Linked DNA regions of Homo sapiens: regions 2 and 3 are each reported to be linked to region 1. The links are microRNA targets in miRTarBase. Many come from high-throughput screens and were not tested one by one. Region 1 holds a microRNA gene; each other region holds the end of a gene's coding sequence.

What was found. Region 1 holds the annotated microRNA hsa-miR-548k (AAAAGUACUUGCGGAUUUUGCU, at 3,560-3,581, opposite strand). A microRNA usually pairs through its seed, bases 2 to 8, with sites in the 3' UTR of a target mRNA and lowers its output. Matches are read on the target gene's strand: a 7mer-m8 pairs with bases 2 to 8, a 7mer-A1 pairs with bases 2 to 7 and ends in A, and an 8mer does both.
Region 2: miRTarBase lists BBS10 as a target of hsa-miR-548k. Seed matches in the 3' UTR shown: 7mer-A1 at 4,495-4,501.
Region 3: the mRNA of AKAP11 is a reported target of hsa-miR-548k. Seed matches in the 3' UTR shown: 8mer at 1,579-1,586 and 7mer-A1 at 3,863-3,869.

What each region holds. Positions count from the first base shown.
Region 1 is chr11:70,282,037-70,287,566 of GRCh38, reverse strand. MIR548K (microRNA 548k) reads right to left here and starts at 3,612; the gene lies at 3,497-3,612. All of the region lies in intron 2 of PPFIA1 (PPFI scaffold protein A1), which reads right to left.
Region 2 is chr12:76,341,143-76,346,406 of GRCh38, forward strand. It overlaps BBS10 (Bardet-Biedl syndrome 10), which reads right to left. Exons shown (of 2, transcript NM_024685.4): 2 at 3,332-5,264. The coding sequence ends at 4,671. Among named protein-coding and RNA genes, the nearest start is that of BBS10, 4.6 kb to the right of the region's middle.
Region 3 is chr13:42,318,379-42,323,642 of GRCh38, forward strand. AKAP11 (A-kinase anchoring protein 11) reads left to right here. Exons shown (of 13, transcript NM_016248.4): 13 at 710-4,883. The coding sequence ends at 850. Among named protein-coding and RNA genes, the nearest start is that of AKAP11, 49 kb to the left of the region's middle.

The sequences.
Region 1 (5,530 bases):
ACTTGAGACCAGGATTGGAGACCAGCCTGGGTAACATAAAGACTCCTGTATCTACTAAAAAAAAAAAAACTTAGCTGAAGTCAAACCACTGCATCAGAATATGGGCATTTTTGAGAATCAGTATACACAGGGCAAAACCGGATCGCTGAAAGAGCTGCACCAAATTACTTGGTTGTAGCTAGAATGAAGTTGGCAAGTAGAAGATAAGAAAGGCCTAATCTCAGACAACGGCTTATTTACAAAGTTGTACAAAAAAAAGGAGTCTGCAAGTGAGGAACTATCCACAACTGGGAGAGCAGGGAGGCGCTGGGCCAGGATGTGATGACACAGGAGTCTTCAGCCCGAGGAGGAATGGAGAGCTCAAGTGTTCTGAGCAAAGGAAAGGCAGCTGTACATGCATTTTAGAAAGATCTTGGCCCGGCGTGGTGGCTCACGCCTGTAATCCCAGCACTCTGGGAGGCTGAGGTGGGCGAATCACTTGAGCTCAAGAGTTCGAGACCAGCCTAGACAACATAGCAAGACCCCTGCTCTACAAAATAATAATAATTACATATATGTATGTGTGTGTGTGTGTGTGTGTGTATGTGCATATATGTGTATATGTATATATATAGTATATGTGTATATATATGTGTATATATATGTGTGTATACACACACAGAAAAAACATTAGCCAACCATAGTGGCGCACACCTGTAGTCCCAGCTTCTTAGAAGGCTGAGGTAGGAGCATTGCTTGAGCCCGATCACACCACTGCACTCCACCTGGGTGATAAAGTGAGACCCTGTCTCAAAAAAAAAAAAAAAAAAAAAGAAAGAAAGAAAGATCTTGCTGCAAAAAGGGATAAGATACTGCAGAGAGGCTCCAGAACAGGGGCCATGGGAGTCAACCCGGTGAAGACAAAGGGTTCGGGTCTGAGAGTCAGTGGGCCTCAGGGGTAACCTCCAAGAGATGGAAAGGTCCATCCCACAGGTCCTGGAGACTAGAAGGATAAGGTTAGCGCAGAAAAGAGATAGGGCCGGGAGCAGTGGCTCACGCCTGTAATCCCAGCACTTTGGGAGGCCAAGAAGGGCAGATCATCAGAGGTCAGGAGTTCAAGACCAGCCTGGCCAACATGGTGAAACCCCGTCTCTACAAAAATACAAAAATTAGCAGGGCGCGGTGGCATGTGCCTGTAGTCCCAGCTACTTGGGACGCTGAGGGAGGAGAATCGCTTGAACCCGGGAGGCAGAGATTGCAGCGAGCTGAGATTGTGCCCTTGTACTCCAGCCTGGGCAACAGGACGAGACTCCATCTCAAAAGAAAAGAAGAGACATAGCCACCTGACTACGTAGAAAACTACCGTTCACAGGATGGGGTACGGATGCGGGGGAAAGATGGTTTGAGCCAATATTGAATTTAAGGAGCCCAAAGCCTGCCCAAATGAAAGTACACAGCATGGCAGTCAGGTAAGGCACCTGCGAGGCACAGTGGCCAAGAGTGGAGGAGTACAGTGGGCAGCTGAAACTCCCAAGGAAAACCACCTCCCTAGTTCTGCCTACACAAACATCAACGAAAAGTGGAAAGTGCTCCCACATTACATCATCCATGCATTTAACTTGCTCAAACCGAACTATGTAAGTTTGGTTTTTTCCATTTCTCTTCATACAACGAAAAAAATGTGGGCTAAATAACCCTTTTTACCTATGGAATATTCAGCACCTAGAACGGTGCATGCCACATACAGACACTCAAAATACCTGAATACATTCATGTATACACTATATACATAAACATTATGTATACTGCATGAAAACAGTATGCATTTATGTATATGATAATTAAAAAGTACACATTGTTCTGTGCCTTATGTGATGGGTGATGTTAAGAGGTTTTTTTTTTTTTTTTGAGACAGAGTCTCACTCTGTCCCCCAGGCTGGAGTGCAGTGGTGCGATCACAGCTCATTGCAACCTCCACCTCCCAGGTTCAAGCGATTCTCCTGCCTCAGACTCCCGAGTAGCTGGGATTACAGCTGCGCACCACCACGCCCAGCTAATTTTTGTATTTTTAGTAGAGACAGGGTTTCACCATGTTGGCCAGGCTGGTCTCGAACTCCTGACCTCGTGATCTGCCCATCTCGGCCTCCCATTACAGGCATGAGCCACCGCACCCGGCAAGAGTTTTTAATTTTTGCTCACAGCACTAACTTTATAGCCCAAACCCATGCACTTGAAGTGGCTCTACTCTAACCAGTGGTTTCCACCCTAGGTCCATTCTTCCCTCCATCCCCAGCTCATTATCCACATAGCATGATCTTTTAAAAACTTGGGAGGCCAAGGAGGGAGGATCACCTGAGGTCAGGAGTTCAAGACCAGCCTGGGCAACGTGGTGAAACTCCCGTCTCTACTAAAGATTAGCCGGGCACGGTGGCGGGCGCCTGTAATCCCAGCTACTTGGGAGGCTGAGGCAGGAGAATCGCTTGAACCTGTGAGGCAGAGGTTGCAGTGAGCCGAGATCATGCCAGTGCACTACAGCTTGGGCAACAGTGTAAGACTCCATCTTAAATAAAGAAATACATAAATAAATAAAAATAAATAAATAACAACGCAGCTAAATCACATCATTCCCTCCCCTGAGGCCACGATGCACGCAAAGTACTGAAGCCCTAAGGTACTTAAAACAAAAACAAGCAAGTCTTCACCTCTGTCTGATCCCATCCCAACCTACCTAGCCAACCTTACCATGTTCACTCTTCCCTTCCCTCCAGGCCAAGTAACCATGGCCACAGACCCCAGCTTTGACTCAGCTAAATGCTAAGCTCTCCCTTGCTCTGGCCTTTGCTCAAGTAGCCCCACCGCCAAGAAAGCTCTCATACCTGGTTCCTCTTAGCCTTCATCCCTCAGCTCTAAGCCAATCCCCTCGAAAGCCTCACCTTTCTGGACCACAGTGTGCCTGGCAGCCCACCCCACTCAGTCGAGATCATGGATTTCTTCTGAACCACTTCATTCTATCTGGATGTGTCTCGCAACCTGCACCTGCTTTGAGCATGGGTATATTGTGAAAGTCTTCTGCAGGCAGAGACCCTGTCTCTACCACTGACTGCAGGAGCCTAGAACGGTAATATTCACACAGGGCTCAACAAAATAGGAGGAAGGACTCTGTCTCCTTGCTGACAATTAAAGGTGTAGGAACAGGAAGACAAGATGGCAAATTCAGTGTGTGCAAAAGAGAGATGTAAATGGCCAAATATTATTCTGAAAGGATATATTCAACTATTTCATACACCAAAGACGATGAAAACAAGTATGGTATTTTAAGAGGTGTTTTGCCAACTACTACTAAGAAACAGTCAGTAAAGCAGATGAGGGGGCACCATCTGAAGGGGCAGTCATTAGTATTTATTCTCAGGGAAGAGTCATTTAGCTAGTTTTACCTTATTCCAATTCTTCCTAATTTGTTCACTAAAGTTAAGCTTAGCAAGTACCTTGTTTGCAGCACTCAACAAATTACAGTTGTAGCCAATTTTGCATCATATTAGGTTGAAGCAAAAATAATTGCGGTTTTTGCCATTAAAAGTAAAGCAAAATCCGCAAGTACTTTTGCACCAACCTAACAGCAATACTTGAGAAAAGCTTCTGATTCTTTATACCTAAACCTGGACACTTCCAACATTTGGGGCCAGATAATTCTTTGTTGAGGGGGCTCCACTGCAGAATGTTTAGGAGCATCCCTGCCCTAGCTGTGACAACCACAAATACCTCTCAACACCACCAAACACCAGCGTCTCCTCTTTACTCTCCCCCACCCCCGTCCCCCTTCTCCCCGCAAGCTTGACCCTGGTATCTGCCACTCGGCTGTCATCCTCTAGTCCTACACAATTCCGCCAGGTTGTTCTTTTCTACTGCCCTCTGCCCTCGGATTCTAGCATCCTAGTTTGGGCTGTAACACTTCATGCCCACATTGCAGGAACTGCCTCCTAAATGGGCTGTCTTGCACCCTCTCGCCTCCTCAATCCATCCAGCACACCTTCCACTGCAACCAGCTGAAGCTCACCCATCACTTTGACAGGGAACACCCCTGACACAGGTAGACTTCTTTTTCACTAAGTTTGGATTTGATTTGAAGACCTCATTCCTTAGAATCTTCTGAGTTTTGTACCCCCTGCTTCAGGGATTGGCAGATTGGGAGAGAGACTGGCAAAATTTGGGACCTCACCTGCAATGAAAGGTGAACAGTCTCTCTTCTAGGTTTCACACAAAAGAGTTCTTCAAGCAAGAGGTCTTCTAAAAATCTCATTTGTTGCTTTCAAAAAGACTGTAAAAATCACTGCACTCCAGTTTAAAATAAAATCTCCATTTGAAAATGCAACTGAAACTTTAAAATGAAATTAGAGAGAAGCCCAAAGGCAATATTTGCTTTAAAAAAAAAAAAAAGCACTCGGTCAGTCGGTCAGGCATGATGGCTCATGCCTGTAATCCCAGCACTGTGGGAGGCTGAGGCGGGCAGATCACCTGAGGTCAGAAGTTCAAGACTAGCCTGACCAACATGGTGAAACCCCGTCTCTACTAAAAATACAAAAATCAGCCGGGCATGGTGATGCACGCCTATGGTCCCAGCTACTCAGGAGGCTGAGGCAAGAGAATCGCTTGAACCTGGGACATGGAGGTTGCAGTGAGCTGAGATCGCACCATTGCACTCCAGCCTGGGCGACAAGAGCAAAATTCCTTCTTAAAAAAAAAAAAAAAAAAAAAAAGCCAGGCACGGTGGCTCACGCCTGTAATCCCAGCACTTTGGGAGGCCAAGGCATGCAGTGGATCATGAGGTCAGGAGATCGCGACCATTCTGGCTAACATGGTGAAACCCTGTCTCTACTAAAAATACAAAACAAAAACTAGCTGGATGTAGTGGCGGGCACCTGTAGTCCCAGCTACTGGGGAGGCTGAGGCAGAAGAATGGTGTGAACCCAGGGGGTGGAGCTTGCAGTGAGCCGAGATCACGCCACTGCACTCCAGCCTGGGTGACAGAGCAAGACTCCATCTCAAAAAAAAAAAAAAAAAAAAAAAAAAAATCAGCACTCAAAAAGGAAACATACATGGGATCAAGTCATAGAATAAACATTAGGTAGCTGGGCACACTGGTTCATGCCTGTAGTGGTAGCTACTCAGGAAGCCAAGGCAGAAGGATGGCTTGAGCCCTGGAGTTGGAGATCAGCCTAGGCAACACAGCAAGACCCCATCTCCAAAGTAAGACTAAACACCACGCACACAACCTCTCCTACCTCCCTAGCCTCCTTCTTTGCCACTGCCAGATATGTCATCACAAACCCTCCCTCGGTCTGACACAGGGCATGGGGAAGAGTAGAGACTACAGCAGGGTGGAACAGCCCACACAGTGGCCAAGACGGGAATTGGAGGCCAAGGGCTGTGTCTCCCGCTGGGCAGGCCACTTGCTCTACTGTCTTTAAGTGGTTAAGTGACTGGGCAGGGGCAAATGGGGGATTCTGATTAGAAACTGGACAATGTCATGAGAAGCAGACTGGAAAAAAAAAAA
Region 2 (5,264 bases), not on the chromosome of region 1:
AACAGAATCACCAGTTGCCTTCTAGTAGGCATGTAATTTGAGTAAGAACTATTTATATTGTGGTTGCTTTTGTTTTGTTTTGTTTGGAAATGGGCTCTCGCTTTATTGCCTAGGTTGGACTCAAAACTCCTGGGCTCAAGAGATCCTCCTGCTTCAGCCTCTTGAGTAGCTGCGACTACCGGCACACACCACCATACCTGACTGTATTGTTTTAAGCCTGTGAGATTTGGGGATATTTCAGTATGGTGTAACCTATCCAGACAGAAACAGTAAGTGTAACTGGTGGAATGTAAGATAGAGGGACTGGTAGACTATGAGATCTAAGGAATAGGTGGGGGTCAGGTCATGCTAAGCCTTGTAGACTATGACAAATTTGGATTGCATTCTGTATGAGGAAAAATCATTGGAGGACTTTGAGCAGGGGAACATGACATGATTTGCCTTTCAAAAGAATCAGTCACGTAGGGAAAACTTCTTATTCATAGGAAACACATACTGAGGTATTGAAAGATAAAGTATAATGCTTTCTACAACTTACTTTCAATTGGTTCAGTAAAATGTGTGCACAAACGGGCTAAAATCTAGATTACTTGGTGAATCTAGATGAAGGTTTCATTGTACTCTTTCACTTTTTTGTGGGTTTACATTTTTAAATAAAGTCAGGGTGAATCACTCTAGAGAACTATAAGACCATTATGAGCTAGTGCAGGTGAGATGAAGTGGTTTGGGCTGGAGTGGCAACGGTGGCAGTGGTGAGAAACGGGTGGATCTGAAACCCGTTTTGTATTTGAAGCCAGCAGGATTTGCTGATAGATTGGTTGTGGAGCATGAAGACAAGTCAATGTGTTTCTTAGGTTTTTGTCCTGAGCAGGTGGGAGGTGGGTGGTACCATTAACTGACATGGGGCGACAGTGGGAGGGCTAGGGTTAGGAAATGGGAAATAGCAATTCTATTTTGGGCACGTTAAGGGTGAGCATCCAAGTGGAGACTGGGTTGGCAGGTGGATAAATGAGTTGAGAATTCAAAGAGGTCTAGGCTGGAAATATATAATTTGGGATTATCAGCATCTATTGGCACCCAAGCCATGGATGGATAGGCTCTCCTAGGAAGCAAGTATAGGTAGAGGAGGGCCAGGACTATGCCATGGGGAACCGGAGCATGAATGGACTGGAAAGAGGACCATATATTTCATTTGATTTCTCTTGTTCTGATTCCACGCTTACTGAGCAAGCACCTGATTATTGTTTGACTTCCCATAGAGATCCACACATAAAGGAAAGATTGGCCAAATGGACTTGGAATATTCTAGTTCCTGGGAGAGTTCTCACTGTAAATAAATTTATCACATTCACAAGCTTAGCGTGAGTTAGCCCCTGAGACAAAGCCATAATCAGTGTGCTCACAAAAATCTGATGGTGAGTCTGCATAAGGGAGAGCCAGACCCTGCACTGTGGAAATTCCCCCGAGAATGAAGCACTGCTTGCTGGCACTCTTTCACAGCTCACACCTCTTTGCAGCCTGCCTAGTGAGAATGTTCTCATATTTCCAGAACTGGTGAGACAATCCTAAGCCAGGTGTAGCTAAGAGAATATTCCTTTTTTTCAGGTGTATATCTTTTATTGTCAAAGTTCTACTTATTTGTCAGGGTGTCTCACAGTTTTTCTTCCATGCTGATCTTGCATTTCCTTAGATCAGGGTCCTTATTACTTAATTACTATTTGGAGAGTATTCTCTATGTGCTTGCACTAGATCTATTTTAAAATCTTATTTCATTTTTATATAGGTAATATTCAATTGGTTCAAAAATCAAAATGACATTGAGAAATCTTCCTACCTCCTCCTGATTGATTGGTATCTCCTCCCCCACCCCTCCAAATCATTGCCTCTCTTTGTGAATCCATCTAGCTTTTAGGCTGTTAGCAATCTTTTGCTATGACAAAGTTGCAATTAATAACTATATATACATACATATACATGGTTTGTGAGCTGTAGTTTTTGTTTTCTCTGCTAAGCTGTGAAGATGAGAAAGACATATTCTACTTCTTTTGGGAGAGGAGAGGCAATTTCTGATAAAAGTTCAGGCTCAAACTGCATTCTTCTTCCCCTTCCCTTTTAGTCTGAAATGTGGATAACATGGCAATTCCTGTACAACATGATTAAATAGCATCCCTGGCTGAATCAGCTCAAGGATGTTCAAGTTTAACTATTGCTTTGAAAATAAAAATGGCTCATGCTGGCCCAATGAGAAAAAATAAGAAGGTCTATAAAGGTTATTGGAGAAAATGTGTTTGTGGGAGGTGGATCGACATGTAACTTAATAATAAAAAGAAACGCAGTTGAGAAGTTAATGCGTATTTGTCTTTTCCCTCCCATGGTGTAGCAGATTGTATTTTCCAAAGATAGCTGCCTCAATATATCCCATCCCACATGCTCTTATGATGTGACACTGACACTGTTCCCATTGAGTGGTGGGGCCTGCATTCTTCTCCTTTGAACCTCAGGTGATGCTTATGACTGCTCAAACAACAGAATGCAGTGAAAGTTGTCCAGTTAAGCCCAGTCAACCCCCAGAACCACAAGTAAATAACATAATGATTCAAAAAAACTAAGTTTTGGGATTATTCATTATGCAGCAGTAAAAAATAGAAACATGATCTTGATTTTGATTTTAACTGGCCTTTACATTTTCCTTGGTCTTGATTCTTTAATTTTCATTCAGATTTTACTGTAATTTTGTCTGTTCCTTTTCTTGGGTGGGGATGGTCTGTTCTTATTGCAGGTCACTTCACATCCTTTGTGGTAGAGGGTATAAGTATAATGTAATTACATTTTTAAAAGTGCTTTCCTATCTAACTCAGTGATGTAAACTCTCTAGTGTTATTCTGTAAATAAGGATAAATCCATGAAAGTTTTACCACCATTTTTGAGGGGTTTCTTTTAATGAAAAGGAAAAGGATTACTTTGTGTAGATCTGTTCTACACTTTCTGCTCCTCCCCAAAATAGATCCTTTGCCCATGAAAGTTTATAGAAATTATAATCTCATCTATGAGGACCAAATGACAGATTCATTCAACAAATAGGCCCTCAATAGGCATCTATTGTGTGTAAGATATTAGACCAAGTGCCAAACGTACAAAGACCCAGTCCTACCTCAACAGGGCTCCTGGACTAGTGACTATACCTATTAAATGCTTATCATATGCAAAGCACTGGGCATGTCTGGAAGTCATTAAATGCTTACAGTAATGGAGGAGTGTTTTAAACAACCACAAAAAAAGCAAAGTGACCAAATGACCTGAAAGGCAATTAAAAAAAAAATGAAAAAAATTATGCAGCAGTTTTAAAGTTCATTCATCCATGAATTCAGCAAAAGAGCTAATTTATTCTCTCCATATTCACAGAAACAAAATAATGCATCATATAGCATAAATGTTTAAAAAATCAGAATTACATTTAATATAAAAAATTTTGATATTATAGTTTTTAAAATACATTAGTCAACACTTATTCAACTATAATTAAAGTTTTTTTTCTTCAGTCAATCCCAAGTAAGAATCTGTTGAATAAGTAAACTGGAAACATGTATTTAAAGGAATGAATTAAAGATAACACTGTTTTGTTCAACAAGCACTTCTGAATACTTGGAGTAAATACAGCACTGTTTTGGGTATTACAGAGAACTGATAAAGGTAGAAAACACTGTCCTTGTCCATGATAAGATGCATCATATTATTTACATTGACAAGTTTTTAAAATATGAACATTTGTAAATGAAATAAATTAGAAATAAAAATTAAAAATAAAACAGAAATAAACATTAGAAATAAAAATTGTCAAATTATTTGTTACTGTGGAACTCTGGCTATGCACCAGATACAAGAAAAACCAGTAAATACATGACATATCCTTACAAGCTCTTGGGGTCAGGAGAAAATCAAAGTATTAATTGCATATCCTTTCTAGTATTAACCTTTTACTACAGAAATGAAAGAGTTAACAATGCACAGTTATATTTCAGGTAACATATATTCAAAGGTATATCAAAGGTGAAAATCTATCCAAGTTTTCCAAATGAAGTGGCAGTAAACCAATGACCACATAAAAGTAAAAATTAATTTTATGCTTTTTGAAAAAAAATTTGAGCCTTTTACTCACTGCTAATTTAATTTTATGCTTTTTGAAAAAAATAATTTGAGCCTTTTACTCAGCTTTACAAAGTATGAGTAGGGAAAATTAATGCAAATAATGTATTCAATATTAAAAACAATTAGAATAAGCCCACCCAAATCAGAGATTAAATGATTCTATGAACTAAACATGTAACGATGAAGGAGGGCTGGAGTGAAAAAGATACAGGAGAGTAAAAAGGAGCTATAAAGAAAAACCCTCCCCTAAACACATAGGCTAACACAGAGCTGAGACACAGAGGCATAAAATAGGGAAAAAACAGACACACTTAGCCAAATCTTGGCTTCCCCTCTAGATTTGTTCCATAAAGTAATTTAATATTTGTATCTGGTCTGGTGACCTTAGTGTGCTTCTTCTAAAGACTTTTAAAGTTACGCTATTTTCCTAAGTAGACTGAACTGACTTTAGAACCAGTGGTCACATGACTGCTTTACTTGGCTTGAGTTAGATGAAAAGTTTGGTTAATTAAAAACTTCTGATGTTATAGTTCATCTTCTGAATCTTGATTGTGAACTTTCTGAGGGTGTCTCTTAACAGTGATTACCATGTCAATGGTTAATATTTTTGTCAAACACTGAAGAACTGAAGTTAGTAGCTGGTATTTACCCATTACTGATTCCAAACCTGTCTGACTGCTTACCAAGGGTTGATTGGTTTGCAGTGCATGGACAGCTCTTATATATGTATGTGGAAAGCTGTACTTTCCTGTTTTAGATTTATAAAGGACTTTGGGAATGCCTAAAAGTGCATTAGCTATTATCATACTAACCATGGTTTCTTCTGATTGATGGCATTTTTTGGCATAATTGAGAAGATAGTAATGTAACAAGATCTCAAAATTACCACCTACTGGCAAAACACAACCAGCTGGCATAGATGAGGAAAGGTAACTCTGGGAAGTACCCATATTCGGTAACTTACAGCTCACTGGTAACATGCTTCCCTTTCTAGTAATATTTGTGACCTGTAAATTTTCGTAAGAAATTTCTATTCTATTTCCCCTTGTTGAATAAGCAGTGGAATTGTTCTTGAGTAATGGTTCATAATAATCAGTTAGCCTGTTTCTTTCCAAAGA
Region 3 (5,264 bases), not on the chromosome of region 1:
ATCTCAATAAAGCTGTTTTTAAAAAGGTTAAGCATATATATGTTACACAAAATTAAAGTAGTTTTTCAGAATTTAACTTACAGATCTTTCAAAACTTAAGAGCTTTTACAGAACTTAGTAGAAAAAGAAATGAACAAAAGCATGTCGTGAGTGGTGACAACAGGATTTATTTAAACCTGTATTTATTTATTTATTTATTTGTTGTTTTGTTGTTGAAACATTAACATTCTTTAACTTAGAAAGCCATGTTTCCATTGAGGCTAGAGTGTGTATTCCAGAAAAATGCCACACTATATGTTGTGGAAGGAAAATCCACATCCTTTTATTGAGTTTGACGTTGTCTTTATTATTTTATGTCCTAATTGAGGGTGTGGCAGTTGTATTTAGTTAGGTGAAGAATTTCCTGTAGAAACTCAGCCTCTGCATGTCCATGCAGACTATTTGCTTGGTGAGGTTTGTGGAGCTCTGTCTCCAGCGATCCCAAAGTGTCATTCTCTGGAGGAGATGTGTTTATAAAGGGGAAGAAGGGAAAATGTTTAATTTGGGTAAAGGGGTAGCGGTTTAGAGGGGAAGACCTTGTTATAACTAGGAAACGGTATTTAATTGTAAACAGCAGGATTCTTAAGTTTCAGCTAATATTGAAAATAAAAATAAAAGCTTTGTTATAAAATTGTTTTTGGTTAATGTTTGACACATCTTTCTTTCTTAGCTTTCAAAACAATTACAAGAGAAAGGATGGAAAGTGGGAGACCTCCTGCAGGCTGTGCTTCAATACTATGAAGTGATGGAAAAAGCTTCCAGTGAGGAGAGATGCAAGTCGCTGTTTGATTGGCTCTTGGAAAATGCATAGAGCAAACCCCAAACCAGTATATTTTAGTATTTGTTTGGGGAGGGGAACAAGCCAATAAAGATGTTTAGGATAAAATTTGAATAGTGAATATTAACATCGTAAGTCAGTTGGGAGGCAAGTAAATATAGCTTTCTGAGCGCTTTGTGTTATCACTCGGTGTATATAGTTCATACTTTTGTAATCTGTCAAAATACTACCTTCATTTATTCTTCTATACACATGTGTAGTGTGTCAAGACCCTAAGAACATGTATTTGAAGGAAGGTCTAACCAGGGGGTTTTCAGGGGCATTGTCTGACCACATTCTTTTTGTATCCAAATAGTGCTGCTAGAAACTGCACTGAAGTGGCTGAGGATAGGTTCCAGTGATAGAGTTATAATTTTGCTCCTTTGCAAACAAATGGTATCTAATTAATAACTAGTCTGACATCAGAAAATAAAATTGAGGCTGATTTTTAAAAATTTCTAGTAGATTTTTGGCCTTTCCTGTTTTTAAAAATCAGTTTCATTTTCATATTTCATAGATCAGCTATTGGTAGCTTTTTGATTTCCCCAAACTATTTAATTTCTTAGCAGAAACATTAGTATTTTAGGTTTCTATAAACACTATAAGTGATAGTTTCCCCCATCCTTTCATTGACATTATTTGCCAATGCTGCCAGTCATTCTGGCATGAAAGGTGTGTGTGTGTGTGTGTGTGTGTGTGTGTGTGTGTGTGTGTGTAAGGGAGTACTTTAACCTTGCCAGTTTGTTCCCTCTTTTATTTTACTGTTTTCTTTTTAGAAACCCACTGTTAAAATTTAAAAAGGTGCTTTAAAATAAAACGCCTATAAAGATTGTGCAGTAAGAATTTTTATTGACAATAATTAAAATTTTTTTTGACAATTTTGGGTTCCCAACTTATCTTACAAGTGAAAACTTAAATTGTAAAACATGTTGAAATTTTAAAAATTAATGTTAATATGGAAATGCATTTAGAGAAGCCCAGTAGTTTTTATTGTTGGATTTTTGAAAAAACCTCTACCAAGAATGTGGTGTTTTTTTTGTTTGTTTGTTTGTTTGTTTTAGAAAAATTGGGATTTCCCCCCACCCCGCCCCACCCAGATAAACTATATCTACACTGTCTCGTCAAGTTCTCTGACACGATCTTTCTGGGCTCTACATTTCCTACTAGTTTGTGTCCAGAAACTGCAAGTTGACATGAATAGAGGACAAAGGTTGTGTCTTGCTTTTGTCTCTCTCTTCCCTCCCTGCAACTCTCTCTCCCCTCCTCCCACTCTCTTCCCCCTCCCCCCTCCTCCCACTGTCTCTCACCTCCCCCACCCCCCACTCTCTCTCATCTCTCGCTGTGTCCTGTGTATGTGTGGGTGTGTGTGTATTTGGGTGTGTAAATGTTGGTTCTTCCACTACTGGATTTTGTAATCTAGGATAAATCACTTTTTTTGGGGACTTTGATTTTGCTCCATTACGTTTTCATTTTTTCTGAGCACTGACTGTTCTGAAAGCTGCACAAAACGTAGAAAGAAGACATAGCGCCTGCCAGGGAATAGGAAATGAGGGCACTTACACATTAATGTGAATTAGTAATTGTGGTATAGAAATGTTTTATAGTGAAAGATTCAAATTTGCTTTTCAAGAAAAATGCCAAAAGCTATTTAAATAATTCGAGGTTACATCGTAGGTTTTGATTTTTCTCAATTTAAGATACAGAAATACAGCAAGCCTTAATATAAAGTTTCCTAAAGTTTCTTCAAGTATTTTTTAAGGTGGAGAAATGCAGGAATTGTATAACCAGAATTGTTCCTGCCTTTAGCTTTTCAGAACTTGAGATGTGGCAGCACTGGACTGGGTTTTTTTAAATGTTAGGACTAGGAATGTTTGCTCTTGTTAATTATGAATTAATTGATTATTAAGTTTAGAATGCATTTTTACAAGTATCTAACTATCAAATTGTGTTTAGTAACTTGAGTGTATGCACAAGTTTGATCAACAGCAAAATAGAGTTCTGAATTTCTTTTAAAGTGATGATATATTATTTTGTGAAACTTTGTGTTTGAAAATGTTTATTTCTGTTTATGGTGTAATCATTCTGAGGTGAGGCTTTTCTTATTTCCTTTGCATTTTGCTAGAGCTGTGCTGAGTTCAGCATTTGCTTATTTAACCACTACATAATGACAGACCAGTTATTAGGTATTAGCATGTGTGGTAATAATAATAGTGGAACTTCACACTTACATCAATTCAGTGCAGGGGCATAGAATAAAATATTAAATATTGGCAGATGTATGAAAAGAAGTGTGAGTTAAAAATATTGAATATTGGCAGGTGTGAAAACAAGTGTCAAAATTCCTCATATAGAGAAAATAATTTTGAGTTTAGAGTATTATCTTTTAATTAAGTGTAGTCTAAACTTAACTTTCTGTAAAGGCACTTTGTGGTTTTTCCAAAGATGTTCTAGATCTATTTGGTTGCTCTATAGTCAAACAGCTCTTTTGAAGACAACTGTCTTATTTTATTACAAATTGGCTTGACATATTTATACTGTAACATTGTAATATTGCTGTGCTGTACATTTTGGCCCTTACGAAATACGTCTTTTTCAGAACTGTTAAAGTTTTGATGTACATCGAGCTGAATTCTGTTTTTACCAGTTTCAAAACCTTCAAGTGATATGTGGAAAAAAGTGAATGAGACCTCTGATAGGGGGTTTTCAGAACCTTGTTCACACCAAAATGTGACAGTTCTTTCATGTTTTCCTAAACCAAGTTAAAATTACATGTATATTTTGGTGTTAAGGTTGATTTTTAAGATACTTCTGATTTGTACAAAAGGAATGTTTCCTTTATAAATCACAGAAGAAAATGACAATATCTGTTGGATATTTGATATAATTTAATGGTGTTATAAAACCTTTAAGAGGATTCATGGTGAATATATGTGATAACATCTTTATACTTTGAAAAATGTTCCACTTACCCTTCAGATATTTGTTGTAAGTTAATTCAATTCTTAATACTTTAATTTTGCTCCAACAAGGGCTTTATGTTGCTGGTAAGAGAATTTATTTACTAAATGCACTATGTATAAAGTGAAAGATAGTTTACTTATCTGACTTTGATATTAGATGGCTGACATTAGTGCACATAATGCAGAGTTTAACCTTGATTCTTCAACAGAGTCCAGATTTAAATGTCTACTTAGTTAATTAGTTAGCTGATATTCTTCCACAATTAATATATTCAATTTCCCATCAGTATATCACTTTAAATTTTATGTTTTTCTAAGGAAACTTTCCACAGAATTTTAAACAACTGATGCATCCATACTCAGGGTGTAGGGAGAATACTTTGCATTTAAAAACCCTGTCCACCTGTCACCAGCACAAGAGAATTAGAGCTTCAGTGAGAATTTAGAAAAATTATACTAAAGTGAGATGCATTTTTTCTCATTTTCAGCAAGACTCCTCTAAGCATTTACTCATTTACTGTATTCCTGCTCTGAAGATGTGGATACAGAATTAGTCACTCTTGTCACTTTATTTATTTATTGGTTTTTTTTTAACCATCTGTGTACATTCCTTTCATAGGGTAGAGTTCTAGTTCTAGAAGTTCTTATTTTGTTTTTGTTGTAATGTTTGAATACTATTTAATATCCGGTTTTAATATTGCTGGATTTGCTACCTTTGGTTACTTGTGCAGTGTTAAAAGTAATCCACTTTCTTGTTTAATATACCAGATACATAGCAAAAGCAGCTTGGAATAATTATAGCTGTTTATTTGGCTGTGCTCAGTTACTATATTAAGATCTTGTACTGTGTAACAGTAACTCTTTTTTGCTTTTCAGTAATTTAATATGTTCACTTAACAAAATACGAACTTTGAGATGCACTAAAGTTTTGTTTCAGCAGTGGCTCAAAAAATTTCAGAAATTACTTTTGTAATTATTTGCAATTAATTGTTCTTTTATCTTACAATTGTTTAAGCCTGTGATCTTTCTTCTCCCAGCTAAGAGTTCTTCAATAAATTTAAGAAATACCTGGTCTTGGTTTTCATTCTATAATATCTCATTAACTGCTCTGTACTGAGTGGGACTGCTATGACAGAAGACCACATAAGAGGACTGAAGTGCTAGATCATGGTTTTGAGAACAAGAGAAGTTAGAAATATTTCCAATTGGACACTAGATTCTACCTACTTATAGATACCCCAAATGCAGACATAGTGACTTAAAAGGCTGGTTGCCCAACCTGTTTTTGCAAAGTAGAATATTATGGTTGCCTTGAATATGAACATGGCTATGAAATTCTTCTGGCCTGGTTTGAACACTCTTTCCATAATAAGACCATACCTCTGTTAAACCATGTACACAAGATAACTTAAAAGCTGCTGGGTTTTTTTTTTTTTAATTACTAATGG